5 linked regions of the Homo sapiens genome follow. The protein of the gene in region 1 interacts with the protein of each later gene in a pairwise test. Each region holds a gene or a part of one and is shown on either strand. Other genes may lie near its edges.

What was found.
Region 2: the proteins of SMYD3 (region 1) and CAMK2B interact in a two-hybrid assay, tested with the Homo sapiens proteins (one large-scale study listed by BioGRID and IntAct).
Region 3: the proteins of SMYD3 (region 1) and SHC3 interact in binary tests that used the Homo sapiens proteins (3 or more experiments, as listed by UniProt).
Region 4: the proteins of SMYD3 (region 1) and VANGL1 interact in a two-hybrid assay, tested with the Homo sapiens proteins (one large-scale study listed by BioGRID and IntAct).
Region 5: the proteins of SMYD3 (region 1) and NUP54 interact in binary tests that used the Homo sapiens proteins (3 or more experiments, as listed by UniProt).

Annotation. Positions count from the first base shown.
Region 1 is NC_000001.11:245,922,277-245,928,350, forward strand, and holds part of SMYD3 (histone-lysine N-methyltransferase SMYD3), read right to left. Parts: intron 5,758-6,074; coding exon 5,655-5,757; intron 1-5,654. UniProt on the Homo sapiens protein: Histone methyltransferase. Specifically methylates 'Lys-4' of histone H3, inducing di- and tri-methylation, but not monomethylation. Also methylates 'Lys-5' of histone H4.
Region 2 is NC_000007.14:44,221,094-44,226,136, reverse strand, and holds part of CAMK2B (calcium/calmodulin-dependent protein kinase type II subunit beta), read left to right. Parts: intron 1-245; coding exon of another isoform or gene 246-374; intron 375-823; coding exon of another isoform or gene 824-921; exon of another isoform or gene 922-952; intron 953-5,043. UniProt on the Homo sapiens protein: Calcium/calmodulin-dependent protein kinase that functions autonomously after Ca(2+)/calmodulin-binding and autophosphorylation, and is involved in dendritic spine and synapse formation, neuronal plasticity and regulation of sarcoplasmic reticulum Ca(2+) transport in skeletal muscle.
Region 3 is NC_000009.12:89,041,251-89,047,324, reverse strand, and holds part of SHC3 (SHC-transforming protein 3), read left to right. Parts: intron 1-330; coding exon 331-481; intron 482-1,491; coding exon 1,492-1,579; intron 1,580-5,140; coding exon 5,141-5,299; intron 5,300-6,074. UniProt on the Homo sapiens protein: Signaling adapter that couples activated growth factor receptors to signaling pathway in neurons. Involved in the signal transduction pathways of neurotrophin-activated Trk receptors in cortical neurons.
Region 4 is NC_000001.11:115,657,996-115,664,069, forward strand, and holds part of VANGL1 (vang-like protein 1), read left to right. Parts: intron 1-1,645; coding exon 1,646-1,778; intron 1,779-5,665; coding exon 5,666-6,074.
Region 5 is NC_000004.12:76,140,363-76,146,436, forward strand, and holds part of NUP54 (nucleoporin p54), read right to left. Parts: exon of another isoform or gene 5,193-6,074; intron 4,112-5,192; coding exon 4,028-4,111; intron 3,931-4,027; coding exon 3,787-3,930; intron 1-3,786. UniProt on the Homo sapiens protein: Component of the nuclear pore complex, a complex required for the trafficking across the nuclear membrane.

The sequences.
Region 1 (6,074 bases):
TAAAGGTACCTTCATTTAAAGTGAAACTGGTCATAACACTTTCAGCTTCAATTTCAGAGGAGCATGTATTAGAACAAAGACTGCCTATAGAAAATGTTAATTTAAGAATGGAAAATAATCTGTGTAGATGTCATCATGGACCAACACTTCTATACACAAACCAAATGTTATTCAACAGTTGTAGCAATCTTTCTTGCCGAGTCCAAACATCAGCCAGACCACCTCCACCAAAGACCAATTATTCTGCTTTGATACGTAAGATGAGATTTACTATAGTTTTGATAGATTCTCTAAATATGTTTCCACAATTTATGAGAAATCTCTAATGTCATATTTTTTTTTTGGACACTCACCATTTGAGCTCTACTTTTCCCTTCAGGAAACTCTAATCACAAATGGAAGAAGAAAATCACTATGTAGTAAGCATCATGTGCTGGGCACTGTCCTAGGTAAATAATTTGTTACTTCAATCCTGAGAATGAAGCTTTATTACTAACCCCCTCCACACTGCGTAGTAGTAAGTGTAGCACTGAACAAATCATTTCCCAGTTTAAACCTTACATTTTCTTCCATAAAATAAAAAAAATGAATATGTAACATTATCTGAGTTTTCTAAGATTCCAAAGATGGTACAGACTACTTAGGTCTTACTCAATTTTGTAGTCCTTGGGTTTTGTTTTTTGTTTTTACCTATTAGGCTTCATCTATTGCTTCCTAAATTGAATCACCCTATAAATATTCCCTATCATCATAGCCATGGTCGTATATACAAAAAGTGAATGAAAGGCAAAGGAAACATCACGTTTCAATCATATGGTTCAACGAGTTGAGAAAAACTCACACTACAGCAACAGTGACTGAGGTAAAATTGAATGTACACTGAGTAAAATGTTTCGTTTGTGATATCCCAAATCTAACTCAGGGGTTAGAATTGGGTGGGGTTTTAAAAATTGTTTTCTTCAAGTGTTTTATGTATAGTACATACAATAAAAAACAGTAACATTTGTAAACATGCAGGAAAAAAAAAACAAGAAAATCTGGCCACGCAGTTCCTTTGCTGAAACCCTTCAATCATGTCCCGCTGCTCGTCCTTCTCCCTTACACAAATATTTACTGGGCGCCTCCTATAGACCAGCCAATGTTATGAAACCTTCAGCTAAACCAAGGTCTGTGATAAGGCTCCCATGGGGTTTGTCAGTCTGATCCCTACATCTTCCCTCAAATTCGGGTCACATCTAAATTCTTTCGTCGTCTATTGATGAGAACTGCTTCCTACTCCTTGAACTCACCATTCTGTCCCTGGCCTCTGTGTCTATGTCTACAATGCCTTTTCCAGCCTCATCCAACTCTAACTCCATGGATCCTTTCAGAGTCTAGGAGTCAGTCCTCTGGAAGCATTCCTTAACCACTCTCCACTCCCTCCCCTTACTAATCACTCGAGTGCTCCTGCTCTGAGCTGCTGTAAGCCTGTGCCCATTTACACCACTGTGCATCTTAATTCTATTATTGTTTTCTGTTCTCTGTCAGTTTCCTCAACTATACCTTGAACTCTTGAAGTCAGGGCTGGGTCTTAATAATCTTTGTATTAGAGAAGGTTTCTAAAACTGCTACCAACTCCTGACATCCAGTAAACATGCAGTGAATTCGTTTAATGGTTTAGCAAATAAGATGACTAACAGAAGAAACAGACTGTCTTAATCCCAAAAGACATCAGATTAAGACTGACATTAGGGATACTAATGCATTCAACTTGTGTCAATCACATTTCTCCCAGTTGATATGGCGCCAGAGAATGCTGGCAGCCAATGGCATTATTTGTAACAGCTACAAGTTATTTTAACCAGGAACTACCATAAGACTGCTTTGGCCTACCCAGCTTTCCTCCCTGATCCATGTTTTATAAAACTATCAGAACAAATGAATCTCATATTTAAGATAATTTTGAAAAGGTAGCCATCAGCAATCCAGTCAAGTGAGCCATGACTTAAATGATATTACACATCTCTCTCTGTAGGAGGCGGCTGAATGAGGAGACAAAAATCCAAAGTCAAATAAAAAAAAAAGACCCAATAACTCAGCATTACAATGGAGAGCCTTAAATAGCAAAGTATTATAAATGTTGCTGGTTTGCAAGGAAACTGTCCAAAGAGGGTCCAAAGGATGGATTTATATAGAGAGAAACATGGGGTGAGAAATTTCCATGGCAACTTCTGTTATCACAGACCTTGTGCAATTTTCCAGCTCTCCTTGTGTGAGGTTTGAAATGCTCCCATCTTAAACTGGCAGTAGACTGGCTTTCATATTCCCTTCCTTTCAGGAGCCATGGGACACCACTGAGGACTGCCAGTCATTTGTAAATGTCTGAGACTCTATTCCAGCTTTTTTTTTTTTTTTTTTTTTTTCTGAGATGGAGTTTCACTCTGTCGCCCAGGCTGGAGTGCAATGGTGCGATCTTGGCTCACCGCAACCTGCGCCTCCTGGGTTTAAGCGATTCTCCTGCCTCAGCCTCCTCAGTAGCTGGGATTACAGGTGTGCGCCACCACACCTGGCTAATTTTTTGTATTTTTAGTAGAGACGGGGTTTCACCATGTCGGCCAGGCTGGATGCAAACTCCTGACCTCAAGTGATCCACCTCCCTTAGCCTCCCAAAGTGCTGAGATTACAGGCATGAGCCACGGTGCCCAGCCCTATTCCAGCTCTTATTTTATCTTTAAGAAGTCTCATTAATTTACTCAACAAATGTTGATTGAGGAACTTCTGCCTCAGTTGCTGTTGAGTCTTCCATTGTGAATCCCATATTCTGACACTCAGATCCCAAATAGCTCATATTAAAACTGTGGGTGCCCTAATGAGCACTAAAGCCAAATGCAAAGTTCATGATAGGAAATTACCAAAATGTCTAAAATTTTTTCCCAAGGAATTTTAACTTTCAAAAAATTAATACATAATATTTATACATATTTATGGGGTCCAGGTACTATTTTGCTACCTGCATACGATGTGTAATGATCAAGTGATGGTATTTAGGTTATCCACGACCTCATGTATTTACCATTTTTGTATGTTGGGAACACAAAATGTCTAGATTTATTCCTTAATTTAAAGCTAATATTTGTACAATAAATAGGAATTACCCTGCTTAATCAATGCCTCAAACTGTCTTTTCTCATGGCTCTCCCTCTCCCCTACCTCTGCTCCAAGGGGTCAGTTTGAAAGGCATAGGATATATTTTAGTTGTTGGGGGATGGCTACAGGCATTAGTTAAGCACACGCCAAGGACACAAGTCTTCTCCAATGATGCAACAATCCCACACGATGAAGAACTGTCCCATTCAAAATGGCAATAGTGTCCCCACAAGAAATACTGCCGGTCATTAGAGTAAGCTCAATATAATAGAGAGTCGATTCAACAAAAAGTTATCAAATGCCTCCTGGATGCAAAGCTAAGTGCTAAGAGATACAGAAATAAGACACGATTGTCTGTCCTCATAAAGCTCTAAATAGAGAGGTCTCCAAAACAGCCATAATATGTGCCAAAAATGTATTAATAACCACTATAAGCGAGAACTCAAAGGAAAAGAACTTCTTCTAATATGGGAAATCAGGGAAAGAGTTACACAAGAGATGTGATTGAAAGGGTATCTTAGTCCATTTTCTGCTGTTTTAACAGAATACCACAGACTGGGTAATTTATAAATAAATTTCTCACAGTTCTGGAGTCTGGGAAGCATGATGCCAAAAGCATGGCACCGGCATCTGGGGAGGGCCTTCTTGCTGCCTGATAACATGGCAGAGGGCGTCACATGAGGTGGCAGCAGGAGTGTCCTCTTCTTATAAAGCCACCAATCTCATCATGGGGTTCCCACCCTGATAACCTTATCTAATCTGGATTACTTCCCAAAGACTCCACCTCCACAAAGCATCAGCAAGAATTTGGGGATAAAGTTTTCAACAGATGGAATCTGGGGGACATGTTTAAATCATAACAAACAGCCTCGAAGGGCATATAACATTAAGACAAAGAGACACAGTGGACAGAAACGATGATGAATCAGGGGAAACACTGTTCAGCAAGACCTACAAAATGGAATGGAGAAATGTTTATTCTCTTAAACTGGTATATATGAAGGACTTGTGGGGAGAACCTTCTTTTTGTTGAGAAGATGCCTTGCTAAGTACCACAGGGAAAAATATCTGAGTCTGAAGGGCTTTACACTGAGTGGAAATGTCTCGTATTTGGCAAGAGGGAGGATTTGCTTGTTGCTCCAGAGATGGAAAGAGAAAGATGTGAAAAAGTGAAAGCAGCACCTAAAGACAAGGTGTCTTATTCAACTAAATGAAAAGCAACCACGGGAGAATGACTGGCAGCCGAGCCTAGGAAAATAGAAGAAACTTTCTTTGTTGTTTCTGAAAATTCCAACCAACTCTAATTGCTTTTGTCAAGTTACTTGGTTTGTTTTTTAATTTGCAAAAACATCGTCATCATCGACAACAGCAGCAGCCGCTCTTCAGCCCCCAAATGAATATTGCTGAAAATAGATAGCGGTTTCATCTCTTACCTGCCTTGAAGTCCTTTGCGGCCCCAGAAAAAAAAGAGAAAAAACTACATTGTCCATCTCACTGACATCTATCCCAGTATATTTCATACACTGGTCCTAAAATCTGGAAATTTAGCGAGTAGTTGTATAAGAAGTGGCTCCTTCCACTGAAAATCAGTTTGGGGAGAATCTTGTCAAAGCCAAATCCCTGTCTACATAAAATATGGTACCTCTGAGTTGAGGTTTTATTGGCTGAGTGCTGCATAAATGCAATAAAAGCTTTCAGTACTGTTTTCCTTGCAATAAATATCCACTTTAGCAAATTGGAAAGGAGAAGGAAACGGGGTTCTGGAAAGTAGAAATATCTGTAACTCAGAACTCAGCATGGGTAGTCACTGTGCAAACCAGTGCAAGCTTAGGTTCAGAGCCCTGGAGCAGCCCGTTTGCAGCTGTCTTGTAAGAAGGTTCTGCACCAAAAGAGGCTGGCTGGACAGTCTGTCAAACTGGAGGGGTCAAGGCCAGTTCACTGCTGGAGGTCATCCTCCCTGTCCTCTATTCCCTTTGCATCTTTGCTGAAATGATCACCCAGAGATGCTGATGGGTTTGTCAAGTCCCAATGTCAGCCTGAGACAGTATAAGCTGTTTGCTTTACTAGCACAAAGTTAACATGCATCATTACCTTCAATGTAGCCAGTGGCCTTCCGAGTGAAGAAGTCTTGGGGATCCCACTCACAAGCTGGGATGCCCCCCCCTGCCCACGGAAGGATATGAGAGGCTGCTCAGCTGTTGCCACTGAGGAGATTTCATGAATTCCCTGTGTGTGCATAAAACACACACCCTCTGTCATACACAAACTCCTCTCTCTCTCACACACAGGACAGGAACTGTCATCATCCAGAAATATGGTGACCTCTCCCCTAAAAAATTAGCCCATTTGTAATTTGGGAGAAGAAAGGATAGGTTGCTGGGGAGAGGTGACTGAACTACAAATACTCTCACTGGCAGAAGGACAATGAAAAGTTGTCCCCTCAGGCACAATCAGTTTTAGGGACGGGCCGAGCTGAGAGGGTCTTTGATAGGAAAGAAGGCCAGGCTGGGAAGCATGAGTTTCCTTACCTCCTCTCCCACCTCGATGTCTCGGACTGCTCGCAGTAAGAGGTGGGGCCCATTGAACACAATCGAACAGTTGGGGTCACAGCTGTGATTGAGCAAAGAGATACTGGAAAAAAAAAGGGGGGAAGACTGTCACAGCTCAGCAGGTAGAGTCAACTAAATTTAACAAATGCAGTGGGTAAAATACACCTTCCTTTGGGGGGCAGCAGCAGGTAGGGTTGACAGGATGCCAGGGGTTCAGTACTCGGGGATGCATTCACAGAAATGTCACTAGCACACCTCCCACGAAGTGCAATTCTCCTCAAGATGCAGGCTAACTAGGGAATTCCGTCATTTAATAATAAAAAAATTTCCTGAGTCCTTTTTGGGGATTGGGGCATAGTTGACTGATTAGATAACAGTCAATAAGGCAACCCAACACGA
Region 2 (5,043 bases), on another chromosome or scaffold:
CTGCTGGGCCGGGACAGAAAAGTGTCAGTCCCGGCCTGAGACGCTCTAGCATTAGAGCTGTCCAAGTCCAGACAGCAGGGAGCAGGTGGGGATCGGGAGGCGCGGATCTGGGGGGCAGCTGGGGCCAGGCTGAAACAGAGCGGGCGGGACAGGAAGCACAGGCTGGGCAGCCTCCCCGGCCAGGGAGGAGCCAGGCTGGGCCACCTCCCGGTCTGTCTGCCGACTACCCGCAGTATCACTTACAGGGATGGATGACATCCCAGGGCTGCTGCCACCCCCACCTGTGGGGAGACACCAGACTGGGGGTGGTGTGGAGATACTCTTAGAGAAGAGGCTGCTGGGCCACGGGCTCGGCATGGCAGGGCAGTGGCTAGGTAAGTACTTGAGGGACAGGTGGGGTCTGCTTGCCACCGTCCCCTCTGCAGGCTGGGCCTGGGGGCTGCTGCAGGCGGCCAGGGCAGAAGGGTGTGGGGAGAGTGAACCCACAGGAGCAGCGGCTCGAGGAGGGGGATGCAGGCTGCAGGCTCAAAGGGGCACTGGATCCACCCTGGGTGCCCGAGAGAGCAGGGGGCAGCCCCTGGAGGGGTACTCACCCCCAGAGCTTCTGTGGTCGGCTGAGGACCCCCAGCAGGGGTTGACTGAGGGGATCAGAGGCAAGCAGCTGAGGGGAGAGGCCAGGTTCTTGATGCTGATAGGGTCGGGGTGCCTGGGCGACCAGAACTCAAGGAGGGAGGCATGGGGAGGGGCCGCCGTGCAGCTGGGGTGGGTGCACCGCAGAGCCTCTGGGAGTGGTCAGAACCCCCGACACCTGCCACTTCTACAGCAGCTCATCTGATTTTAAGGGGCTTGCTGCCCTTGCAGAAGTGGAGGGGTGTGCCCAAAGGAGCCTGCCTGGAAGGTCACCCCATCAGGTTGGCATGACCCCAGCCCAGGACTGCAGCCTGCCCTCAAGGTCTGTGCAGTATCTGGGGTGAGTCCTCTGAGGACAGGGCCCAGGGTGGGTGTGGAGTGGCCAGCTCGGGGCTCGGTGTCCAGGCTCACCTTCAGGGGCCACAGCACAGACCTGCCCTTCCAGAGTCTTCCCTGAGCTTGGCTGGGGAGGAGGGGGCTGCAGGAAGGAGCTGTGAGCAGGGCAGGATGGAGATTCGTGTGGCCCTCCTGGGAGGGGCTGGGCAGGGCTGGGAAAGGGGTGGGTGAGATGTTCCGGAACTCAGGGAAAGGAAGAGTCTGGGTACTGCCCTGGGGGCACCTGGGCCCAGGTGGCAGGTGGCCAGCTTTCTGCCTCCTTTCCACCTCCTTTCTCCAGAAGGCACCCACCAGCTGTGTAAATAGGGCAGGTGCCCACGGCCCGCCTCAGGCCCCGTCTCCTCCCCACCCACGCTCTCTAATCGCGGATTATACACAATCCAGCCTGATCCCTGGGCAGCTGCCCTCCCTCCCGCAGCCACCTCTGGCTCTGAGAGATGGGCTTGGGGCCAGCCTGGGGTCCCAGGAGTCCAGGCCAGGATGAGAACCTGCTCTGACCCCACCTGGACGCATTAGGCCTGCCTGGACCTGTTGCCTCACCCCAAGAGAGCCACAGGCAATGCAAAGGCTCCTGTTCATGTCAGGGCACCTGGAAGGCCTGACTTGCAGAGGCTCTTGGCTCGTGCAGACCCCTCCAAGCCCAGGCCCTGCCCACCACCTCCCCTTTGTCTCTGGAACTGCCAGGACAGCTTGTCCTCAGCCAGCAGGTTTCCCGACCCGGGCACCTCTTCATGTTGGGCCCCCCTCCTTTCCCTCCATCAGGGATCATGCCCTTCTTCAGGGGCCTGGATATCAAGGACACAAAAGCTCCCATGTGCTATGTGGGGAGGCAGAGTGGGGGCTGGGTTGAGCTGGGGTCTGGGCAGCGCCATTCCGCAGGGCAGGGGCAGCCTAGGCTTCCCATCTGTGGAATGGGTGGGTGGGTCTCACAACGGACCTGCTTCCCGTACTTCAGCACGGTTACCACTCTTGATTGGAACTCTGACCATGCATCTCCTCTTCTGTTTACTTCACGCTTTCTCTTCCCATCAACTCCCATTTTAATTACAATTTGTTTAAAAGCACTGCATATTACTTCATTAAACAGAAGATTAGTTTCACTTACCATTAGTGTAAGGTGACTATAGAACCAAAGCAGACTGGAAACCAAATGACATAATGTCATTCTCTTCTCCATTCCAGCTGCCTGCTGCTGTGCGCCTGAGAACCCCTGTGGAGTGGGAGGGGCAGCTGTCTCTGTACATTAGAAAGGGAGGTTAACTAAGTGACAGGAGGTGTTTGGGACATGTGGACACCAGACTTCTCTCTTGATGCAAGGAGGGCAGAGCCAGGCAGCCTAGTGGGGGCTGGCTTGGGGGCTGCTGGAAGGACTGGCTACAGGTGGAAGAGAGGTCAGACCTGAAGCTTGGGGCCACCTCCAGGAAAGGACAGGTGAAAGTGGAGGCATGAGGCAGGGGAGAGGCAGGTGCCAGGCAGAGGGTGGAGAGGAGGCAGGAACATAGCAGCTGGGGCGGGGGCGGGCCTCAAGTGTCATATGCTACTTTCCTGGGGCCCAGGGGCAAGGACAGGAACAGCCACAGCATGTGTTGGGACAGAGCCCTGTGCCTTCCTAGAGCTGGGCAGGTGGAATGGGGCAGGAATGGGACTCGTGGTGGCTGCAGCAGGAACTGGAGGGGAAGGGGCTTCTGGATCCTGCAGCCTACCTTCCTAGAGGCCAGCTTTCCGGGGTCCACCAGGTGGGTGGGAACTGGGCTTGTGTAGCAAGACTGCCCTGAGGACCATCCATGACATGGTCTAGATGAAAGTTAGGAAAGAAAGGGAGACAAGCTGGCAGCAGAAGTACAGCTGGGTCAGGAGCAAGGGCCTTTCCAGATAGGGACAACCCAAGAGTGCACATGTGCCCACGCCACACAACACAGGCACACACGACACGTGCACGCTCATAGGCACTGCACACACACATGCACAGGTGCTCATGCATATGTATGAGCTTCATCTACACACATTCACATGCCGTCCTGCTTATGTGCATGTTTCCATACATGCACATGAATGCACAATCACGTGTACACACATGCATGTGATCACATACATGAACATGTGTGCACCCCACTCCTCAGGTGCCATCGGGCTCCTCCTGCTGTCACTGTGCAGCAGGGGACATGAGGCCCCAGAGCAGACAGGTGCAGCACAGGCGTTCCCAGGCAGTGCCCCACACACATGCATGAGCACACCCGGGCATGTGGCGCCTCCTTTGTGGACTCAGTCACCTGCCAGGTGGGCTCCCTGGTGGTGTGAGCTCCCAGAGGTCTGGCGAGAGAGATAAAGGCAACCCCACCACCAGGCGTGCTGAGAATTCCCTCTTCTGGCTGGGCACAGTGGCTCATACCTGTAATCCCAGCACTTTGGGAGGCCGAGGTGGGCAGATCACTTGAGGTTAGGAGTTTGAGACCAGCCTGGCCAATATGGTGAAACCTCATCTCCACTAAAAATATACACACACAAAAATTAGCTGGGTGTGGTGGTGTGCACCTGTAGTTCCAGCTACTCGGGAGGCTGAGGCAGGAGAATCGCTTGAACCTGGGAGTCAGAGACTGCAGTGAGCCGAGATCATGTCACTGCACTCCAGCCCGGGTGACAGAGTGAGACTCCATCTAAAAAAAAAAAAGAATTCCCTCCTCTGGGAATTTAGACCACAGACAGGTTGCATGTATGTGGCCGTTGGAGGCAGCACTCACAGCAAAGAGTGGAAACGTCACCACAGGGCCTGCCTTCTGGTGAAAATGGTGTCCTGCAGGGCGGGCAGCTGTTTGAGGGCAGGTGTCCCAGGTGCGGCCTGCAGCAGCCTGAGGGTCACAGAGCGCAGTGCTGGGAGTGCAGAGACTTCCCCCACAGGGAGAGTTCCCAGGAACCTGCTTCCGGTGCACTTCTGGGGGTTTGAGTTTTTTCCACGGACGAATTACTTTGAGAAACCACTGTTACTCGTGTGTATAGGTGAGCGTGCGTGTGCATGTGTGTTCTGTGTGTGAGTGTGCATGTATGTGCGTGCCTGCGTATATATCCTCGCAGATACGGCTAGGGACCTCACTCAGGACAGTAGTTCTGCCTGAGGAGAGTGAATGCGGCAAGATTGAGGAGAACACAGGCATCTTCAAACTACATGTGCGGTGCTTTATTTCTTTAAAAATGCGTCTAAAGCAAATAGGAAAATGTTAAGATTTGAATCCGTAGAGTGTGGGTTCTATTATTCTCTCCACATCTTCCATACGTTTAAAATCTTTTGCAATGAAAATAAGCTGTAGTTAAAGCAGCAATGCAGGCTGCCAGTGAGCGCCCCGGAGGCCAGTGAGGACCAGCATGGCTGGGTGGCCTGTTGGAATCCAAGGGGGGCGGGCAGGAGCTGCAGGCAGGCGCCCGGGAGTAGCCCGGGCATGGGGGTGCGGGGCAACAGGGATGTCTGCAGGGGTAGCATGTGGGCCCCGGACTGCAAGCAGGTGGAGCCAGCCGGATGCGGCTCCTATGAGAAAAGCGGGGAACAAGAGACCACGCTCGTTCTTCCTGCTGCGGGGACAGCCCTGGTCATCGCTCCGGGGAACCCTGCAGCCTGCGCCGCACGTGGCCGCCCCCTGCTGCTTCCTCCTCCCCGGCCTCCGGGTGGCCTTGCTGACGGCTCCTTCTCTGAGGCAGGTCTCTGCCTTCTCGCCTGGTGCCTGCACTCAGTAGCCCCCTCACCAGAGCTGCTGGGTGAAGGAAGCACTAAGAACCCAAGGCTCGGGAGGAGAGTGGGGCCGGGAAGCTGCAGGGAAGCGCAGGGCCAGGCCTGGTGGGCCCAGGGGCTGGCTCACGGGAGGGCAGGAGGGAGACTGTGGCGGACAGCACGTGGGGCCAGGAGGTGACCTCCAAGTGGATTGTGGGTGGGTTTTTTGTCCTCTTTCTGCATTTTCCAGGCATTTTGTAATGTGGATAGAATATTTCTGTTCTTCAAAAATACTTTAGTTAAGAAAAATAAGATGGAAG
Region 3 (6,074 bases), on another chromosome or scaffold:
TGGGATCAATTTCATGGCTTACAAAAATGTGTGCTGTCCCTTGAGGAGCTGGCTATCCTTAGGCATAATTTCTTTTTTAATTAAAATGTACTTTTACAAAAGGACATCCTTCAAACATGATTGAAATGTTCCAATGAGTGAAACTCTGAATATGGCAGAGATATTTTGCTAAACCACTCATCTGCTTTTCATCTATGCATGAGACCTGGATGGCTGAGGAGGCACTGACTAAACTCTCTTTTCTTAATAACAGGCGCTAACATTAGATTTGTTGATTTTGGCTGCAAGTTCAACTTTTGGCTAAAGCCCTTGGAAATCTTCCTTTAACAGAATGCAGAGTCTGGATGAGCCATGGACGGAAGAGGAGGGAGATGGCTCAGACCACCCATACTACAACAGCATCCCAAGCAAGATGCCTCCTCCAGGGGGCTTTCTTGATACTAGACTGAAACCCAGACCCCATGCTCCTGACACAGCCCAGGTAAGTCTTATAGTTTTTTTCTTATATAAGGAATGGAGGCTAACTCTACTTTATTTCCTTTTGTTTTCTTTGGTTTTATTTCAGGCTGATGTTCTGTTTCATTTTTGACACAGTAAATCATGAGCTTTCTCTCACTGGATTTCATGAGGCATGCAGATGAAGAGAGGCTTTGGGTTAACATCATAAAGCATTGGCCAAATGCTTTGGAACTGTGTGGTGATTCCTGGGATATGAGTCTGGGGGTGTCCTCTGTACCCTCAGACATATTCCATCATACTGTGATCTCAGTGAGGGAAAGAGAGAATTTAAGATTTTAAAAAGGCTTGGGAGGCATTGGGTTCTCTGAAAAGGAGTGAATATAGACGCTTAAAATGATGAGAATTTTATGAGTTTTCTATTTTATTCATTCCCTTGTTTTATGTCCAACTCAAAATTCTAGTAAGGCAATTGCTTTCTAGAGTTATGATATTTCTGTTTTGTTATAGGAAATTTTTTAACGTTACTACCTTATGTGAATGATAATGACACCACTAAAAATGGCAAAATAACGTTGAGCTCAGGGATCTGACACTGAGAGGGAATTTCCTGATTTTTTGAAGGAAATTTCCTGGTTTACAGAGTGGACTTGACCAAGTGTGAACGATCATGGGCGTATGTGTTATGTGGGAAGTGTGTTCTGACACATAGATACTCTGTAATTGAAATTTATTTTAGGACATACATATGGAAGAGCTTGATTTACAGTCACACTTCGGGAGGGGTGGGGGGGGTAATGAAAACAAGCGGGGGGGCATGTGTAGTTTTGATGGAGATGCAGCCTTTTCCTCACACCCACACAAACTTATTTCCCAAATCTTAATGCCAACCATGAGGCATGAAGGGAAAATTGGGTGTAACAGAGGATGCGAACCACCTTAAGGATCAACTCGCCGACTGTCTTGTGGCTTTCAAAAGTGGTGAAATGAGAAGAAAATAATTTTTTCATTCTGTGTATTTACATGTGTCTATAGTTTGCAGGAAAAGAGCAGACTTATTACCAGGGAAGACACTTAGGAGACACTTTTGGCGAAGACTGGCAGCAAACACCTTTAAGGCAAGGTGAGAGGCAAGGTGAGATGGGTGAGAAACACAAAAGACACTTTTCAAAAGTAACATGCTCACCACTGGGTCGCCTATTTTCTGTGGACTGACAGAGTGACCCCTGGATATATGTGCTGTGTGTGTTGCTATAGAATCCTGACTAGACTATAGAAATAGAAGCAACGGTGTGGTCAGGCGCGGTGGCACACGCCTGTAATCCCAGCACTTTGGGAAGCTGAGGCGGGACAATCACCTGAGGTCAGAAGTTCGAGACCAGCCTAACATGGTGAAACCCCAACTCTACTAAATAAAAAAATTTGCCGGGTGTGGTGGCGGGTGCCTGTAATCCCAGCTACTCAGGAGGCTGAGGCAGGAGAATCACTTGATCCCAGGAGGTGGAGGTTGCAGTGAGCCAAGATGATGCCATTGCGCTCCAGCCTGGGCAACAACAGCAAAACCCCATCTCAAAAAAAAAAAAAAAAAAGCAACAGTGTTGCAGACATCTCCTGGCACCAATCAGATAGTGCCTCCCTGCAGCTCCAGGACCATTCACACCCCGTCTGCAGTCACTGCCTCATGCCCTTGAGACTGTACACCTCCATGCTGGGAGAGCTTCCATGCCCAGGGGTGCTGAGAAGTTGACATCTCAGGCATACTTCACCCCAGTTTCCTATGGGAACTGGTGAGGCAACTCTAAGGTGGAGGTTGAGCCCCCGTGACTCCTACAACAAATTGTTGCCTTTCCTTCCTTGTCTCGTTCTCCTTCCCTTTACTCAGGGTCAGCTTCAGGGGGGATGTGAAGCCCCCTACTCTAAGCTGGGGATTGAGGCAGAGGTGGCACCAGGGATATACGTCTCTCACAGGCCCTGGATACTCTCAGAGAACACTTCTGCATCTTACAATCATAATATGCACCTACATCACACATTAAAACTAATGTCGATATAACTGTCTATAAGTCAGATATCTGCAAATAATTCAAATATATTTAGATACAGCCATCATAATTTAGATACAACTATCTAAGAAGTAACTGCTAATTGCTCACATAAGTCTTTATTCTCTAGACAGTTATATATACACATACAAATATGTATGAATGTATTCATATCTCAATCTAATCCTTTAAGAATGTCTTTTAATTTTAACCTTTTTCCCTTCTCAAAAACATTTATAACTCTTTCACTAGCTCTGGGATCCTGGCTACTAAGTCTATAAGATCTGAAGGGGATGGATGCAACTGATGCTTCTATGTATCTAAATTTAAACATTATTGGTTTAATGTTGAGGCTTATTCCTTCATTATAGCTATTTATGCCAGGAAGCAAATGACAATACATTTTTAAAATGTCCTCTGTGTAAGAGAATTTCGTCTCGCCTGCCCCAGATGCAGGAAGACCCACAGTGCTGGCCCAGTCAATAAAACATAAGGCCTGGCAGAAGCCACCACATGTTCTGCCTCAGAATAGGCTGGAAATAGCAAATCAGAGTCATAACTTTGCCAGAGGGACATTTTCATTATGGGCTATTTATCCTTGTTCTACACACATTTAAAATGCATTTCCATAACATGTGTGTGCATAGACATATAATAACTGCTAAAGAATAAAGGAGACACATTATTTCCCTTAGATATTTACTTTATTGTAAAATATATCAGGTTTATTTTAAAATAGGCCTTGTTTTTGATATATTCAAGTTATTCCAGCCAGATCGAGAACAGATGATGTCGCAGAATGAACTCCTGGCCTGGAACTTGAGACTCAGAGCTCTCAATAAATTTCCAGCTCTTCTTTGAAAACAATAAATAGGCAGGGCATGGTGGCTCACGCCTGTAATTCCAGCACTTTGGGAAGCCGAGGCGGGTGGATCATCTGAGGTCAGGAGTTCGATGCCAGCCTGGCCAACATGGTGAAACCTCGTCTCTACTAAAAATACAAAAAATTAGCTGTGCATGGTGGTGGGCACCTGTAATCCTAGCTACTCGGGAGGCTGAGGCAGGAGAATTGCTTGAACCTGGGAGGTGGAGGTTGCAGTGAGCCGAGATCATGCCACTTGCATTCCAGCCTGGGTGACAGAATGAGACCCTGCCTCAAAAAAAAAAAAAAAAATAAATAAATATCTTTTCTCACATAACAAATTAGAATGTCACTTATTAATTTGCTGGCAGATACTGTCCCTAATGGAAGTGAACTCCAGGTATCACGATGGCACGTGTCCTCCTGCCCCGGCTCAGCACCTGTTGTCATCTATGGTGGGAAAGGGCAGTCAGGAAGATTATGCATTTGGGCTCTTGATCTTCTCCTTTTAAAATTTTTTAATGAAATTCTTTTCTAAAGGCTGATTCGTTTGCAATGTACACAAAGGTGTAAACTGCAAATAGCTGTCACTAAGCAAGGATGCGTAATCTGACTAGACTCTTCAATGTAGAAAGCATGTTGAGAAATAGGAGAGTAGAAACACAGTCCATGATGTTGCAGGTGGTGCTCCCCAGCGAGGGAATGTTAGCACGACACTTCATTCTCACACCTACAGCCTGGGAGACAGTGGTGTGCTGGCAAATGTCCAGCCACAGGCTCTTGGGAACGCTTTTTAAAAAGCCCTGAACCAACTCCTGCCAGCTGGATTGAGCTGGCTTCAACACACCACCGCCCATAGGGTATGAAAGACACCCTCTTTCCAGAAATGTGAATACCACAGGGTGTTCTTGCGAACATGTTTACGTAAGAAGATTGGAGACAGGGCGCACACACAAAAAGACTCCGAGAAGGATCTGAACAGGCGTTCTCCGGCAACTAGGTCTGGGTGTCACTTTCACCCAGGGTCTGGGTGACAGAACAGCCCGGGCCCAGCCTCAGCACACCCACTGGCTAGCTGTGAAGTCCTGTCAAGGCACTAGGTCTTTCACACTAGGTCTCGGTGACAGAACAGCCTTGGCCTAGCCTCAGCACACCCATTGGCTAGCTGTGAAGTCACATCGAGGCAGCATCACTGCCTCAGCAGAGGGGGCTCTTCACTTGCACACCCACCCTGGGCTTCCTTCACAGACCCAGGGGCAGTAACTGCAGCCCTATTTTATAAGGAAGGAGTCTCTCTCAGTTCCTTAGGAGGTACAGAGCTTCTATTGTATTGCTTGAATGAAGTTAATTTATAAAGCATTTGCTTATATTTAAAAAGAAAACAAGAGCAATTAATATAAGGCTTGTGGTCCTTCTGCTCAGTTATTTGATCTTGGAGCATTTGTCAAGGAGAGGAGGTCAGGCATGTTCTGCCTGCCAGGCTCCTGCGGTCTTGGGGCAGCAAGGGCCAAAATTTTTGCTAAGGCCATCACAGTGGAGCCATCAAGGTGTCCACCCTGACATTGGCTGGCAGACCCCATGCTGATATGAAGGACTGGAAAACATCCTAGCTGGGTCACAGCAGTGTGTGGTGACAAGCTCAGAAGAGGAGAATATCACCCATAGGAATCCGAAGGAGGAGGTTTCCCATTTGCAGGCAGAAGAGCTTCTTTGTGAAAGGCTGGGTGGCTTGAATAGTGTCACCATCGTAAAAGAAAAGGGGCTCACTTTCTTGTTGCAGGGTCCTCGGACATCTACAGCACGCCAGAAGGGAAACTGCACGTGGCCCCCACGGGAGAAGCACCCACCTACGTCAACACTCAGCAGATCCCACCACAGGCCTGGCCGGCTGCGGTCAGCAGTGCTGAGAGCAGCCCAAGGAAAGACCTCTTTGACATGAGTGGGTTTCTGTTTGTCTCTGGTTTTCTTTTCTTTTGAGGTTGCTTTTTATCCTGCCTTTTATTTGAAATCTGTGTAATTACTGAATTTTCTGATAGTAGGGTTTTGGTTAATGGTGATGATTAGCTGTACTTTTCTGGGTGATGATTGGGTTTGTTTAAGGCTTTAGGATTATAGCCCTCTCTGTAGTCAAGAGACAGAGCAATTTCCCCCTCTTTTTGGAATTGACGTTCCTCTTGAAGATCTGCAAATGTATTGAGACAATATACATACACAAATGTTTATTTATTCATTTAAATAGTAATTGGCTATTATGTGCCAGCTACTGTATTAGTTGCTAAGGATGCAAAGATGAAATGGCATGGCCCGTGTTTCCACGGATCTCTAGGTCTATGAAGCAGACCAACATTTAACATATAGGCAAGAAATTGCAACACACCTCTCTCTTATGAGGGTTTTCTCTCTCTTTCTCCTCTCCTCCCACTTGTGCTCTCATTTTTTTCTCTCCTTTTTTCTCTCTTGCTCACCTTTTACCTCACTCCAAATATTTACTGAACACTTACCATTTGTCAAATACTATTCTACTTGATGGAGATATACAGGAAAACAAAACCAGCAAAGTCTCTACCTCGTGGAGGTATCTATTACCAGGTAGTGGTACATGCTCCTCAGTTATGAAAACTAAACAGGATAAGGAGAGTAATAGGAATCTATTGCAGATAGCATTATAGTGGGATGTGTACCACAGACTTTCTGTTTGTCATATAGACTGAGGA
Region 4 (6,074 bases), about 130 Mb from region 1:
GGGTCTGTCCCCATGATCCAGACACCTCTCACCAGGCCCCACCTCCAGCACTGGGGATTACAATTGAGCATGAGATTTGGGTAGGGACAACTATCTGAACTGTATCAGCAATAGAGTGTGATTATAAGTTATGCTGTAGGAATAGAATTGTTGTCACTGAAAGATTCCCTTGGCCATGGGAGCCTCCTGGCTCTATGAAGGAATCAGCCAATGCTTATCCCAGGGAGGTAATGATAAGGTCGAAGTTTGACAAGAAATCTACGTTTTCTTAAGCTAAGTAGTAGGTTAACAGAAGATATGTTGTGTGTTAATAGTTCTATTTACATCTCTTTCTCCAAGGTTATACACACTCTGCATCACTAAGTCAAGACACCATTCTTTGACACTGGCTAATAGTAATAGCAATCATAGCCACTGTGCATTAGCACTTACTCCACATCCTTGTACTGAGCACTACTTACATTATGTGGTGTTGTCATTGTCACCATTTCATACATAAAGAAACCAAGGTTTTCAGAGATTGAATAACTTGTGCAAGATCACACATCTGGTAGGGCAGATCCAAGATCTGTTTGTCTCCAAAATCTGCTTCTGTCCTGCCTGGGAGACCTTGGGAATGACGGCAAGTGGTTGTAGGAAGGAGGGCTGATGTCAAGGTGGCTGTGGGGGCAGGAGGCTGAGGGAACTCACTGACCCTTGAGGGACTCCTTAGGTGGGGGATTCTGGGTTTCCTGTTGGCAGCTGGAGGGGGAGTGCCAGTTCCCATAAGTGGTTATTGCCCAGGTTGTGACCTTGGCTTGGCCAGTGATTGGTTCATTTTGGAATTTCATGAGTGACCCCCAGGCAGGGTTCTTACAATCACGCTGGAAGACCACCCAGGAAGTTCCTGTGGGGTAAAATGATGCAGCAGCCTGCTTTCCTCAGGAGGTCTGAAACCCTCCCCATGTACACACACACACACACACAAACACACACACATCCACCCACACACCCTCCACCCCTCTTGGTGTCTTTGGCCTTTTTTCCTAGCTTGTTTGTTTCTATGGGTGTCTTCAAGTTCAACTAGAACCTATGGGAATGACTTAGTTTTGAACCTGTAAGAATGAGAAGTAAACAATTCTTTGTACTGACTTTGAATTTCCTTTCTTCTGTTGTCCAAAGGTGAAGGGTGACAATGTGTCCCAGATTTTTTTGGATATTCTACAAAAAAATAGATATTTTTTTGTAGAAAAAAGCTTATTCTACAGTGTTGTCCCAATTTTAAAAGCCCTAGAAAACTGGTTAAGGCAAATTATAACCAAATCAAATCACTAATTATTACAATAAAGTGTAACTAGCTACAAAAATCCTAAAATTACAATTTTAGGCTTTGAGAAAATATCACTGATGATAGAGGAAGAGTGACAGTCTTTGTTTTGGGTCTTGGGATGGCAGAAAGAAAATATTTAGTAGGGAGTAAAGATCAGTGTACCCCTTGAAGTGTGGTGAAGATGGGTGGGTTTTGATGCTCTGTGTGTGTGTGTGTGTGTGTGTGTGTGTGTGTGTATGTAGAATTTCCCTAAATTCAAAATGATACTTACATTTTGATAAACCCAGAGAGTTAATTAACATGGCATAAATGTGCTAGCTCATTGTTGTTTTTCAGGGAAAGAACTAGAGAGAGACACAAGTCACCCCGGAATAAAGACGGCAGAGGGTCAGAAAAGTCTGTCACCATTCAACCTCCCACTGGAGAGCCCCTGTTGGGAAATGATTCTACTCGGACAGAGGAAGTTCAGGTAAGGATCAAAGGTGGTCTGTAAGCACACTGCCACTTGGCCAAGACTCCTGTCTGTAAATGTTTTCCTTAGGTTCTCTTGGATTTTTGTCTTTATTTTTCTAGCATGCTAATTAGTTTATCTATGTCCCATGGTCTCTTGTTGGTCTAAGGACAGCCTGTCCTGCCCTTTGGTAGCGTGGGGATTCTTCTGAAGTATGATTGGTTGGCCTGCTTTACATGGTGTGGAAAAGTAGCCAGCAAGGTTGACGACAGGGTTGGGAAGGGAAAAGCTGAAGTCTCCCACGACTCATTTCAAAATGGAACAGTATAAGGGGGAGAAGGAAACTCAGAAAACCTAAGAAGTTTAAAAAACATGGGGCAGCCCAGACTGACCATTACTACTAGAGCTATGCAGGAATTGAGAGGCCGCACGCTCAGATGCCTGGTAGAGAAACGTAAGTTAATTAAGGAGGCCCTGGGTCGAAAAGAGGGGGCAAAAATATATTAACCTAGCTTTGGGTTAACAGCAATCTGTGCAGTGCCTCAGTGTCAGTGCTGTAGTGTGGTGTGAAGGAGCCTATGGCTAACTGGAGAATGCATTTCCTCTGTAAAGGAAACAGCAGCTCCGCAGCTCCAGACACCTACTGTTGCTCAGGAATGCAGGGATTCATTGTTTGAGAAAAGCTGCAAATCAGGATTTTATGTGGAATCCTAACTTTACAGTATTTTTGAAATACTGATACTTTATTAATTTTTTTGAACCATTGAGTGGGTTCTTCTCCAGGTTCCAACTGTCTGGCAGCCCACCTGATTTAAATAAACATCTGAGCTATACACAGAAACATGTCTGCATACCCTCTGCACATCCTGAAGTATATATACACATGTCCAGCCTTGCCCCTCATAAACAAAGTGGTGTATGATACACAGCTGTAAAGATAGATATAGGACTATAGATAAGCATACATCTGTACATACCTGTGCATACACACAGGTAAGCATTTATAATCAAATAGGTGGACTGAAACTGGAATTCCTCAGAGTACACAAGGTGTTCTTGGGACACAAAACTACAATTGTGGGTTGAACGTGGGATTCATTGAGCAATGAGCAAATGCCTTTAGTGCTGCCTGCCTTGGCTCTGGGATGGCTGATGGTCGGATGGGGCCAGTCTTAGGATTGGATCACCCTGGAGTACTTGAAGGGGTCAGTTTCCTCCTGGATGTGGGTTCAGAGGTGCCAGTGGCCTACAGCAAAGGCTCTTCTTTCTCTGCATCTCCTCTGCACCTCGTAGCTGAGAACACTTTGAGAAGCTCTTGGTGTTGCCCCAGGATGATCTGGTGTGAAAAGCATTGAGATGGGTGTTTGGAGGCTGTATTTTTTAGTAGCTCTGTTACCTTGAGCAGTCACAGCCTTTGTAGGCCTCAATTTCTTTATTGAAAATCTAGGGGTTTTGATGAAAGCATCTTAGGTGCTTTTTCTTCTAAGAACCTGAAGCTTAACAGGATCCTTTGTGTATCTACATGTTTTAGGCATACATGTGCACCCCAGGAAATTCTCTCATGCCCTTTCTAGTCAATCTCTGCCCCACCCTCACCTCTCCAAGGCAACCACTGTGTTGATTTCTATCACTGTAGATCAATTTTGCCTGTTTTTGAATTTAGTATAATTAGAATCATATGGTCCATCTCCTGCCCCCACCCACCCGCCCTGCTTAGCATAATGATTTTGAGATTTATCCATGTTTTGGTATGTTTCAACAGCTTATTCTTTTTATTTTTGCTGAGTAGTATTCCATTGTATCAGTCTACCACAATTTGTTATCCATTCTCCTAGTGGATGGACATTTGGGTTTTTTTTGTTGTTGTTTGTTTGTTTTTTGAGGCAGAGTCTTGTTCTGTCGCCCAGGCTGGAGTGCAGCGGCATGATATCACCTCACTGCAGCCTCTACCTCCCGGGTTCAAGCGATTCTCCTGCCTCAGCCTCCCGAATAGCCGGGATTACAGGCACGCACCACCACGCCCAGCTAATTTTTGTATTTTCAGTAGAGATGGGCTTTCACCATGTTGGCCAGGCTGGTCTCGAACTCCTGACCTCAGGTGATTTGCCTGCCTTGGCCTCCCAAAGTGCTAGGATTACAGGCGTGAGCCACCGTGCCTGGCTGGATGTATATTTTTATTAATTTTTGGATAAAACCTGAGAGTGGAATTGCTGGGCCATATAGCTAAGTGTATATTTAGATTTATATGAAACCGCCAGAGTGGTTTTCCAGAGGCACTGTACCACGGTCCACTTCCACCAGCAGTGTTGGAGAGTCCTGGCTGCTTCTGGCCATCGTCTGAAATAGGAATTTCTCTCACTGTAGGTGATACTTCTGACTTTGCAAGTTGAAGGATTATTAGTTTATGGGATTGAGACCTTCACCACCACCGCTTCTTACCATAGCCCATACATTTCATAAATCATGGTTTTTTTGGTCATTACTAGATTCGGAGTTATTTGATGATGAGCGATGTCTGTCTTGCTGATTTAGCTACTAACTGAAACTAGCTTTTTCTAAGTTGGTGTCCTAATTTCACCCCCTTTGCCACTGCATCTGACTGTTTTCTTTCCGAGTGAAAGGATACATACAAATTTCAGAGGCAGAAACCTCTTTGGCCTCCTGTGTCTTTTCAGCGCCTTGCTCTTATTGCTTCATTATTGTTGCCAGTTGTTTTTAAACAACAAAATCCTTTAAAATTCTATCAACTGGGTTTTGCTAAGTGAATAGACTAATTGCTTTAACTAGCAACGGCCTAGAAGTTTAAAAAGAGAGGAAGCTAGAAAGTAAAAGATAACATTTTAATAATCCTGGTTGTTTCTATGCCCTTGATGTTTAGTTCCTCGTGAAAACATGTTTTAGAAAGAATTTTTAAGCCAATCTGGCCATACACGGATTCCTGGATTTGCTTAGCTTGGTCCATGAGAAATATTGTTAAAGAGTGCTTGACACTGATGCTTGTTAAGTGGATCTTGTGAACATCATAAGGAGATTTTTTTTTTTTTTTTTTGAGACGGAGTCTCACTCTGTAGCCCAGGCTGGAGTACAGTGGCACGATCTCAGCTCACTGCAACCTCCGACTCCCGGGTTCAAGCGATTCTCCTGCCTCAGCCTCCTGAGTAGCTGGGATTACAGGCATGTGCCACCACGCCTTGCTAATTTTTGTATTTTTAGTAGAGACGGGGTTTCACCATGTTGGCCAGGATGTTCTTGATCTCCTGACCTCCTGATCCGTCCGCCTCGGCCTTCCAAAGTACGGGGATTACAGGTGTGAGCCACCGCGCCCCAGTCCATAAAGAGATTTTAAAATGTGGGTCCTAGCTACAGGTAAGCTTGGGTTTGTGTAGTGGTGTAAGTTCCCTTGCTACGCCCTTTGCTCTTCTGGGCTGCTAGAGGGTGTAGTAATACTCCCACCTCCAAAAGTTGGACTTCGTAAGCCTTTATAACCCAGCGTGAATTGGAAAGAAGATGCAGGAGGTTTATCTCTATAGATGAGCTCTCACAAGATTAGTCTAATACCTGGGTTGCGCATTGCAGGGCAAACAGCTCCAGGCCCTCAGAGCTGCTCAAGGCTTTTCAACCCAGGGGATGATAATCAATGTTATGTCAATGAATCAGCCAAACAGACAGAAAGATCACATTATGTTTTCTCTGTTTGAAAAGGTAAATACCTCATACATTTTGAAAATTTCAATGAAAATCGTTTGAGTTAAGAAGTTCTAATATTTAAAGAGTTAAGCTTTCATTTTCTGGAAGCCTTTGTGAATAGGGCTGGGTAGATGCAGCGGGCCCTGCATGTTCACTGCCCTTTGTAGCTTTTACAAATGACCTGTGTCATGTCATCCTCACTGTCTTCTCCCCACCAGGATGACAACTGGGGAGAGACCACCACGGCCATCACAGGCACCTCGGAGCACAGCATATCCCAAGAGGACATTGCCAGGATCAGCAAGGACATGGAGGACAGCGTGGGGCTGGATTGCAAACGCTACCTGGGCCTCACCGTCGCCTCTTTTCTTGGACTTCTAGTTTTCCTCACCCCTATTGCCTTCATCCTTTTACCTCCGATCCTGTGGAGGGATGAGCTGGAGCCTTGTGGCACAATTTGTGAGGGGCTCTTTATCTCCATGGCATTCAAACTCCTCATTCTGCTCATAGGGACCTGGGCACTTTTTTTCCGCAAGCGGAGAGCTGACATGCCACGGGTGTTTGTGTTTCGTGCCCTTTTGTTGGTCCTCATCTTTCTCTTTGTGGTTTCCTATTGGCTTTTTTACG
Region 5 (6,074 bases), on another chromosome or scaffold:
GCAACCTCTGCCTATGGGGTTCAAGCAATTCTCATGTCTCAGCCTCCCGAGTAACTGGGACTACAGGTGTGCACTACCACGCCCATCTAATTTTTGTATTTTTAGTGGAGATGGGTTTCACCATGTTGGCCAGGCTGGTCTCTGACCTCAGGTGATCCGCCCACCTCAGCCTCCCAAAGTGCTGGGATTACAGATGTGAGCCACTGCGCTCAGCCCTTTTTTGTCTTGGAAGTAGCAGTCAAGGCCATCTGCTAAAAGTAAGAACAGATAAATTTGAGATTTGAAGAGAATAAAGGTTTAAAATTACTGCTATAGAAAGCAGGAGAATAAGTTGAAAGTAGAAATTTCACAGGATTACCAGGCAACATTGAGACCTGAGGTTGGTGATCAAGAATTTAGAGAGGTATTATCCCCTCTTCCATAATGTGTGATCTTTCTCAAGCAATATCTACACAGACAGTTGGGCTTACAAAGGCTTGGGGTTTTTTCAGGCAAATGTGACACAAAAACAAGGAAGTTTAGCATATTGGCAAGAGATATAGAAATGGAAGGCCATGGAATCTAAGCTAGTTAGAGTAGTGAAGACAGAAAGAGCTAACAGAGCAGAAAGTATCAGTTGTCGAAAGATCCAACAGTCTTCTGAAGGATCCTCGATAATCCATGCTTTGGCTTGGAAAGGACTTCTGGCGGTTGTCACAAAGTCAAATGTGACTTTTCCCCTTGATTCACAGGTATTGCCAACTGAGATAGGAATAGCTGTGATTAGTAAAAGGGAGCTAATAAGTATGAGGAATACATGGACGGGCATCTCTATACTGAGATAGGACAAGCAGTGGTCCTAACAATGCTGCTCGCTAATTTATGGTCAAAATCCTACTTGGCTTGGGGATAGGAGATGGCAGCATTTAAGTGTTAGTGTTTCTAAGAGTTTTGTTCTAGTACTCTCCTCTTACTCTGGAATCAGGTCTCCTAAATTACATCATCCATATCTACCACTTTAAATACTACTTACGTTCTGATGGCTTTCATAAATATATACAACTACCCAAGGGACACCTCAAACTCATTATCTACCCACAAACATCTGCTCTTGCTTTAGTATTCTGGATCTTAGTGAAGAGCAAGGGATCCTTCAGTTACGCCACCCAGAAGCCCAAGATACCTTTATCCAGTCATTCGCTTTTATTGATTCTACAAGTTAAATCTCTCTCAAATTCACATCCTGTTTTTTCTCTCCATTCTTAACTGTCACTGCCTTAATTCAGGTCTTCACTATATCTTGCTCAGATTTTGGCAACAGCTTCACCAGATCTCTGCCTCCATTCCAACCCACCTATAATCTATCTTTGTATTTCTCTAAGAGATACTTCTAAAAATCTGATTATTTTCCTGTCTACTTAATCCTACAACAGTTTAGAATTGCTTAAAGGACAGCTCCTTAGTAAAACATATAAGGCACGCTAATAATCCAATTCATATCTATCTCTCCAACTCTCACTACTGACCCTGAGGTCATTTATGCATTAAAAAAACTGCACTGATCTAGTTATACTGGTCCCAAAGGCATTATACTCTGCCATAAACCATGCCATGTTATTTCCTCTGCGTGGATACCCTAGAATCTCCTTGACTATGAGCAAGGATTGTGGTCTTCAACCTTGTACACCCAATGCCTGACATACGATATATACAATAAATGGATATTACATAACAAAATGAGCCCCTTTCAATTTTAAAATAGCACCAGATTCAAATTCCCATTTTCCTAAAAAAACCAAATGTAACTACAGTTACTCATAGTTGGAGAGACTTTATTTCAAGAAACAAAGGAAACACTTCACTTTTGCTGTTCTTTCCTTAACTACTTAAATATTTCATCAAATTTTGTATTTTTGCAGGATTGTAGAAAAGACGAATGACTGGAATACTTGAAAGAATAATTCTGAGAATACTATTCTATTATCTTCATCCTACTGTTAGGCAATCCTTGAAATTCATGTTTAATAAGTTAATAACTAATCTTCAGTGACTGAGTAGGATGAATTTTAGCTAGTCAATCAAGTTACTTAAAAAAATGAAACAGAAGTAATTTTAAGAGGCATCAGATTGGAAAAGTGAAAAGAGCACTAGAATGAGTAGTTGAATTTGCATCCCTGTACTTCTTCTAGAGAGGTATACAGGTAAGTCACAATCTCTCAGGTTCCTCTCTTCACCCATAAAATGGGGATAACAAAAGTATTATTTCACAGGGTTCTTGTGAGAATAAGTTAATCCATACAGAACAACCCCTGGAACCTACTGCCATACCACCTAGTAAGGATGGTTAGTAAGGAAGCCATCAAAGACTAATAACCAGACTGTCTCAAAGGGACTTGGGAGCCAACTTGAAAAGGCTTGCACTGGCCAAAGATGTAACAATTTAAGCATCAATAAGAATGGTAACTGCAATGGATTAAAAAATAGTAACTAGTTTAAAGGCTGCAGTTTCTGACATTAAAAAAAAATTGGTCATCTTTGGAGAATGCTAGATAACCAACTCTTTATTCTGAAAACCAGTAATAAAGAGAAAGAATCAACCAAACAGATGAAGTCAAGTTTCTCCTCACAGAAGTATTTCAACAAATAAATGAATCCAGGTGGAATGGCACTATTTGTAACCCCTAATGAATTAATGGATCTAGGTAATGATCACCAATGGCTCAATGGCTGATCACTCAAAAAAAAAAGATATTATATGTCTTCTGATAAAAAATAGGCCTATAAAATAGTCTTGCAAACAAACAACAAAACAACAAAATATATATATGTACGCCCCAGATCTAACCCAATCATCAAGAAATACAGAGAACAAAGGAATGTGTTAAACTATACCATAGGCGTGCAATCAGAAAAGTCTTGACTAAAAAACTCTATAGGATAAATGATCTGTTTTCTTCAACAAATTAAAAAATAAAAAAGAGAGGCCAGGCGCGGTGGCGCACACCTGTAATCCCAGCACTTTGGGAGGCCGAGGCAGGCAGATCACGAGGTCAGGAGTTCCAGACCAGCCTGGCCAATATGGTAAAACTCCGTCTCTACTAAAAATACAAAAATTAGCTGGGCGTGGTGGTGTGCGCCTGTAGTCCCAGCTACTCAGGAGGCTGAGGCAGAAGTATCGCTTGAACCTGGGAGGCGGAGGTTGCAGTGAGCCGAGGTCGTGCCACTGCACTCCAGCCTGGGCGACAGAGCAAGACTCCGTCTCAAAAAATAAAAAATAAATAAAAAAGAGAGATAAAAGAGGAGCCTATGGAGATTTAAGACAGGCAAAACCAAATACTGTTTACATACTTGAATGACAAAATATAAAGTAAGAAAATGATCACCATAAAAGCCAAGACTGCAGGTCCTCTGATGGGGAAGCAATTGGTAGGGAAATGTGGTAGGCTTCTGAACTGGCTGGCCAGGAACCATCTCCTGACATGGGCAGTGATTACAAGGGTGTTAACCTTTGTAAACTTATATATAATTCATTAAGCTGTACTTTTGTGCAGTTTCTCTATTTGTTATTTTTAACAACAAAAATTTAAATGGAATGATCCTAAACACAGGGACCTTATAATCCTAACTGTGCCAATCAGTGTTCTCCCCAGTTGCTATCATATTTAAACATGAAAAGTAACATTCCTAATCCTTTGGAATATATTAATAATTCTTATAAAAAGTCCACTAAAGTATTCTGAATGCACTCAATAATGTCAGCTAGTATCATCACGGTTTTGTATTTGAAGCTGAAAACCTCATACTTACTAGTTTGCTGCTGCTGCTGTGTATTAAATCCTCCAAATCCCAGTCCAGTTCCCAAACCAGTACCTAAACCAGTACTAGTTCCCGTTGTTGTGCCAAAACCAGTACCAAATCCAAAACCTTTGTTCTGAGTACCACCAAAGAGTCCTTTGAATGAAAAATTGGAACTTCGTAAGTTAAAAAAAAAAAAAAATCTGACCTCTACTTCATTTACTTCTATGAATGACTTAAGATGGCCTCTTACCAGTAGTGCCTGTGTTAGTTGGGGCAGAAAAGCTGAATGCAGAACCTGCAGTTGTAGATGTTGTCCCAAATCCTCCAAACCCACCTAATTAAAAAAGAACAAAAATAGAAAGGAAGAATCTTTTGTATATATAAAGGCAACTTCTTTTTAAAATTATTTTATAATTGCTACATATAAAATCAAAATATATTGATCTAATTTTTCCTTTCCCTACTTTCAAGATCAATTTTTTAAAAAACTATACTACCAATCAAGAAGTCAAAATGTTACAAGAAATGAACTAAGCATTTAAAATAGAAATATCACAATGTAATATATACCCTTCAATTAAAGGGGTGGTTAACAGTTACAGCTGAGAAAACACATTAAGCCTATTGCCATAATTCTAAAATGACTATGTATGTACTTTTAGAGGAGGTGTTGCAAATTCATATGCCTAGAAGATTTAGACTGATAACAGTAAAGAGTAAAGTAGACTATGTGTTTACTGATAGGTGGAACTGTTTAAAATGAATAGTTTTTTAGATCAGCAGTTCCTAAATTCCAGCAGATACAAGAAAGGTAGTTTAGCAGTGTCACATATTCCCATTTTTTACCCCAAGAGAAACAGGAAATCTGGATTTTCTATGTAAAATTTATTGGTTTTTGGCTGGGCGCGGTGGCTCATGCCTGTAATCCCAGCACTTTGGGAGGCCGAGGGGGGTGGATCACAAGGTCAGGAGATCGAGACCATCCTGGCTAACACGGTGAAACCCCGTGTCTACTAAAAATACAAAAAATTAGCCGGGCGTGGCGGCGGGCGCCTGTAGTCCCAGCTACTCAGGAGGCTGAGGCAGGAGAATGGCGTGGACCCGGGAGGTGGAGCTTGCAGTGAGCCAAGATCTTGCCACTGTACTCCAGCCCGGGCGACAGGGTGAGACTCCGTCTCAAAAAAAAAAAAAAAAAAAAAATTTATTGGTTTTTAAACCCTAATTCAACTACTTTTTTTTGCAAGGAATTCAAATGTTTTGAAAACAGCATGCCAAACATATCACATTGGCAGACTTGTTGCCAGTTAGCAACCTTGGTTTTGGTGAATTAATTTATGTCTAAATTAACTTATATTTCTACTTAGTCTCTGTCAAGACTAAGTAACTTTTCAAAGGAAGCATACCAATATACTTACCTCCAAACAACAAGAATGTGTTTCTTGAAGGAAGAGATTTGACAGATAAATGGAATGCTAGCCAATCTAAAATTGTTTTGTTATTTTTGTAACTTATTGTCAGTCTTCAGCTGATTACCAATGTGGTATCAAAAAGCCTTTCAAGACAAATGTTTGAACCATTAGTGTCGAATTATATTGCAGATTTTTTGGAATCTTCCTTTAATCTCATTTATTTCTGGTATACAACACAGATTCATCAATATTGCAATATAGAAAATACAAGAAGAAAAACATGCAACCATTTTATATTAATCACCTCATTCTGATTTGGAAAACTACTCAAGAGTAAGCTGCATGTTGCATGCAGGCACAACTAAATATTCTATTTACTTGTAGGTTCTACTGCAGTACTGCAAACTATAAACATTTTCATAAAAGTCACCCACAGTACTAAGCACTGTTGTAATTTCTTTTCATTATTCTTCACTTCCATAGAATAACTATGATATAATCTGAATTGGCTACGCAATAGAAACACTAGTCAGTTTCTCATCATGCTCCACAACATCAAAAATGTTTTAGTAATAGCAGATCTGCAAGTATACAAAATAAAAAGTAAACAAGAAAGTCTATCAGCCCTTTGCTGAAGGTTAACACATATAAAAGTAGTTAAAACATATTACATTATCATAACTCAAAACTTAACAGTGATAACTCCAAATGAACATGAAATCAAGCAAATACCAACAAGTTTATTTATTGTTGTTGAATTATGAGCTGGGTGGCTTTATTCAGAAACACAAATTTCAAAGTAAGATTTCTGTTTTACCCAGTGCCAATTTTAAGCAAACAAGGAAAAGTAAACACATCAAAGGACAGTGATATGTGATTACTTCGAAT